2 separate regions of the Homo sapiens genome follow, and region 1 is linked to region 2. The links come from fine-mapping of genetic effects on gene expression. A gene starts in region 2. The other region holds a variant in brackets. All regions are shown on one strand. Distances are between the middles of the regions.

Region 1 (2,800 bases), 57 kb before region 2:
ATAATTGGAAGTAAAACACTCTTCAGCAAATACAAAAGAAAGGAAATCATAACAGTCTCTCAGACCAGAGTGCAATCAAATTAGAACTCAAAATTAAGAAACTCACTTAAAACTGCACAACTACACGAAAACTGAACAACCTGCTCCTGAATGACTACTAGGTACATAACGAAATTAAGGCAGAAATAAATAAGTTCTTTGAAACCAATGAGAACAAAGACACAATGTACCAGAATCTCTGGGACACAGCTAAAGCAGTGTTTAAAGGGAAATTTATAGCACTAAATACCCACAGGAGAAAGCAGGAAAGATCTAAAATCAACACCCTAACATCACAATTAAAAGAACTAGAGAAGCAAGAGCAAACAAATTCAAAAGCTAGCAGAAGACAAGAAATAACTAAGATCACAGCAGAACTGAAGGAGTTAGAGACATGAAAAACCCTACAAAAAAAATCAATGAATCCAGGAGCTGGTTTTTTGAAAAGATTAACAAAACAGATGGAGTGCTAGCTAGACTAACAAAGAAGAAAAGAGAAAAGAATCAAATAGATGCAATAAAAAATGATAAAGGGGATATCACCACCAATCCCACAGAAATACAAACTACCATCAGAGAATACTATAAACACCTCTATGCAAATAAACTAGAAAATCTAGAAGAAATGAATAAATTTCTGGACACCTACACCCTCCCAAGACTAAACAAGGAAGAAGTCGAATCCCTGAATAGGCCAATAACAAATTCTGAAATTGAGGCAGTAATTAACAGCCTACCAACCAAGAAAAGCCCAGGACCACATAGATTCACAGCCGAATTCTACCAGAGCTACAAAAAGAAGCTGGTATCATTCCTTCGGAAACTATTCCAAACAAAAGAAAAAGAGGGACCCCTCCCTAACTCATTTTATGAGGCCAGCATCATCCTGATACCAAAACCTGGCAGAGACACAACAAAAAAAGAAAATTTTAGACCAATATCCCTGATGAACATCAA[T/C]GCAAAAATCCTCAACAAAATACTGGCAAACTGAATCCAGCAGCACACCAAAAAGCTTATCCACCATGATCAAGTCAGCTTCATCCCTGGGATGCAAGGCTAGTTCAACATATGCAAATCAATAAATGCAATCCATCACATAAACAGAACCAATGCCAAAAACCACGATGTAGAAAAGGCCTTTGATAAAATTCAACACCCCTTCATGCTAAAAACTCTCAATAAACTAGGTATTGATGGAATGTATCTCAAAATAACAAGAGCTATTTATGACAAACCCACAGCCAGTATCATATTGAATGGGCAAAAACTGGAAACATTCCCTTTGAAAACCAGCACAAGATAAGGATGCCCTCTCTCACCACTCCTATTCAACATAGTATTGGAAGTTCTGGCCAGGGCAATCAGGTAAGAGAAAGCAATAAAGGGTATTCAATTAGGAAAAGAGGAAGTCAAGTTGTCCCTGTTTGCAGATGACATGATTGTATATTTAGAAAACCCCATTGTCTCAGCCCAAAATCTCCTTAAGCTGATAAGCAACTTCAGCAAAGTCTCAGGATACAAAATCAATGTGCAAAAATCACAAGCATTCCTATACACCAATAACAGACAAACAGAGAGCCAAATCATGAGTGAACTCCCATTCACAATTGCTTCAAAGACAATAAAATACCTAGGAATCCAACTTACAAGGGATGTGAAGGATGTCTTCAAGGAGAACTACAAACCACTGCTCAACGAAATAGGAGAGGACACAAACAAATGGAAAAACATACCATGCTCATGGAAAGGAAGAATCAATATCATGAAAATGGCCATACTGCCCAAATTAATTTATAGATTCAATCCTATCCCCATCAAGCTACCATTGACTTTCTTCGCAGAATTAGAAAAAACTAAATTTCATATGGAACCAAAAGAGAGCCCATACAGCCAAGACAATCGAAAGCAAAAAGAACAAAGCTGGAGGTATCATGCTACCTGACCTCAAACTATACTACAAGGCTACAGTAATGAAAACAGCATAGTACTGGTACCAACACAGATATATAGACCAATGGAACAGAACAGAGGCCCCAGAAATAACGCCACACATCTACTACAACCAACTGATCTTCGACAAACCTGACAAAAACAAGCAATGGGGAAAGGATTCCCTATTTAATAAATGTTGTTGGGAAAACTGGCTAGCCATATGCAGAAAACAGAAACTGGACCCCTTCCCTACACCTTATACAAAAATTAACTCAAGATGGATTAAAGACTTGAATGTAAGACCTAAAACCATGACAACACTGTAAGAAAACCTAGGCAATACCATTCAGGACATATCCCTTTGCATGCGCAAAGACTTCATGACTAAAACACCAAAAGCAATGGCAACTAGGGCCAAAATTGACAAACGGGATCTAATTAAACTAAAGAGCTTCTGCACAGCAAAAGAAACTATCAGAGTGAACAGGCAACATACAAAATGGGAGAAAATTTTTGGAATCTATCCATCTGACAAAAGGCTAATATCCAGAGTCTACAAGGAACTTAAACAAATTTACAAGAAAAAAAAACAACCCCATCAAAAAGCGGGCAAAGGACATTAACAGACACTTCTCAAAAGATGACATTTATGCGGCCAACAAACATATGAAAAAAAACAGCTCATCTTCACTGGTAATTAGAGAAATGCAAATCAAAACCACAATGGGATACCATCTCATGCCAGTTAGAATGGAAATCATTAAAAAGTCAGGAAACAGGCTGGGCATGGTGGCTTATGCCTGTATCCCAGCACTTTAGGAGGCCAAGG
Region 2 (2,800 bases):
TCTTCATCAACTTAACTTCCACTGTGTCTACCAAATCAATACCCAGGTCTTGACAGTTCTCACGATCTGTTGTTCTAATTCCAATATCCAGCCGACAAGCATCCTGGACGAAAATCACAAAATCGTAACGACATCATGTATAAAACCATACTGCCTACTCTGAATTAGACCCCAACCTGGCAATCTTTTGGTTCATTTTTATAAACTTCTTATCATGTTCCTGAGAGCAAGTATTCAAAATCTTCTAGGTTCTTTTACGTTATCAAACATGGCTTTGGTCCGTCACTTTCAGCTGAATCCCTTGGATCTAATTAATGAGGTCAATATCTTTGATCTGTTACAGAGATATAAGGTGAAGAAGTCAGACTTGTAATTATTTAGCACGTCAAATTCACCTTAATATACAGATTCTTAGACCCTCTTCCCCTCCCCCAAAGATTCCAACTCAATAGATCTGGTGAAAACCAGGAATCTGTAAACGCCCAGTAATTCAGAAGCAAACGTAAGAGATCAAATTCTGAGAAACAATGTGTTTCTCTGAGAAAGAGAGGAACGGGATTCATTCTGTAATGACAGGACAAATTCATGTACCATTCAAAACGTCTTTCACAACTAGGACTCATATTTATTATTTACGTTTACAGACTTATTATACTTGTAGCCCTACGCCCAAGGCTCTATCATCATTTACAATCCAGTCACTTCCTCAAACAAATGTATTTGCTCCGTTCTCTGCCTTTTCTCAAAATGTTCACTTTCCTTCCACTTAGAAGGCCCCCTCCGCTTTCTTCCGCAAAATTCAGGATCCAAGATAAATATCACCTCTATGCTGAGTCTTTCCGTACAGGACCCTCCCCAACTCACCTGCAGTAACTTAATACATAACTCTACCATTAAGCAATACGGAACACTTCCATCAACCTCTACACTTTAGTATGGACCTTAGTGTAATGCCTGACAGGGTATACACTCAACAAAGTTTACTGGATTCAAGAATTTGGCCCAAGTACATGAGTGGCCAAACAGCCCTCACAGACATCCAAGATTCCTGGTAGGCGCTAGCTGGGATCGCTCCTGAAGTTCCTCGCTGCCAACGCCACCCAAGGGTGGCGTGGTGGCCAGCGCCGCTCGGAAGACGGGCAAGGAGAAACCCCCGAAGCGGAACGTTGAGAACGGAGGCCCAGTTAAGCCACCCTCCCAGGGGAACAACGGGAGGAACCCGGGCCAAACACGGCAGACGCAGAAGCACCCAGCACCGAGCCGCCGCGCCCAGGAACCGCGGGAGCTAGGCTGAAGCAAGAACTGGTGTCGACCGCCTTACCTTGCAATCGTTGCGGACGAACATCATGCCGTGTCCAGGATAGATGGGCCCCGAACAGAAATAACACTTTTCGATACGCATGTTGAACCCGCGTGTAACCCCACCAAACAAACGCCAAGCTTGAGAGGAAGTGATGCAACCCCGTCACCGGAAGTTACCTTCTTCCCCCTTCCCCGACCGGAAAAAGGCAAGCGTCCTTCGTTCTCGCGGGTCTGTTAGACCAGATGCGAACACGACTGTGCCTCCGGCGGCCGTGTGGTCAAATGCGCTGCCGTTTGACGCAGGCGCAGAGCTGCAGACTAGACCTGTTCGCTGTTACTTTGGGGAAATGTGGTTCTGCGCCACCTTGTGAACTTGCTCTCACAGCGCCTAGTTTTTTCTCTCTGTGTGTCGGCATTTATGCAAGTATTATGTATCTTTGGTTTGTGCTTTGCCTCGGAGTGCTCTCGAGAGCACTCTCTTAACTCATTTGTCTACTGCCTGCCCTAGACCAGCCCTCGATTCTCGTCCCACAGTGATTTGCAGGGTGTAAGCGGCGAAGACCCTGCAATCCAGCGTTGCTTCGAACATTGCAATGAAAACGGTTGAGTTGCTGATGCTCCAAGGACTTTACCAGCAATTTTTTTAAATATAAAATCGTGTTATCCGCCTCCCCCCCATTTTAATTAATATGCATATGTAGTAAACAAATATTTTCGCCGGAAACTACGACTCCCTCCCTAGACCTGCGGTCTTCCTCCCCAGGGGCAAAACAGTTCCATTTATTACCTGCCAGAGCTTTTCTGTGCATAGGCAAACATGTATATTTGTGTGTTTGCCTGTCTCTACGTCCTCTTCTTTATAATACTAGTTAATATGCTATTTACTCTTTTCTGCATCTTGCTGTTACCTTGTATCCCTTCATTGGAATGTGAGCTCCATGAGGGGCAGGGATTTCAGTTCGTTTGGTTTACAACTACATCCCAGTATCTAGAACAGTCCCTGGCACATAATAGGCATTTGATACATATTTTACTGTAAAAGGGTATTTAACATTCTTTTTCATATATATATGCCATTGTATGAAAGTATTTTAATTGGTCACTAATCGATGGGCATTCTTATCTTTTGATATAATAAGTATCTGTTGGTACGCTTTTTCAGGAGAGGGTTTATGTAGAACTGCTGGATCAGAGGAGCTGGATATAGATAAATAGTTTTAAAATTTGGCAGATAATACTAAATTGCCTTCCAAAAGTTTTTACCAATTAACACTCAGCATCAACAAATAAGATGTCTGTTTCACTACCCCGCTGTGAAAAGTGATCTTTGCCAACCTGAGATGAAAATTTATCTTATTATTATTTCAACTTGAATTTAATTACAAATGATGTTAAGAATCTTTCACAATGTTTTTCAGCTTTTTTCTGTGAATTGCCTGTTCAGGTCCTACGCAGTTTTCTATTCTTTCGTTGATTTTCAACAGCACTTTACACGTTA

Evidence for each region. PIP is the estimated chance that this variant, and not a neighbour inherited with it, causes the effect. A credible set is the group of variants that fine-mapping cannot tell apart.
Region 1: its variant is the best candidate, but not a certain one, in a credible set for the expression of RSL24D1 in whole blood (INTERVAL, PIP 0.68).

The regions. Positions count from the first base shown.
Region 1 is chr15:55,138,259-55,141,058 of GRCh38, forward strand. No RefSeq gene overlaps it. Among named protein-coding and RNA genes, the nearest start is that of RSL24D1, 57 kb to the right of the region's middle. The variant T/C (reference allele first, on the strand shown) is at 997.
Region 2 is chr15:55,195,489-55,198,288 of GRCh38, forward strand. RSL24D1 (ribosomal L24 domain containing 1) reads right to left here and starts at 1,453. Exons shown (of 6, transcript NM_016304.3): 1 at 1,322-1,453. The coding sequence starts at 1,402. RefSeq lists enhancers at 573-1,464, 1,258-1,417.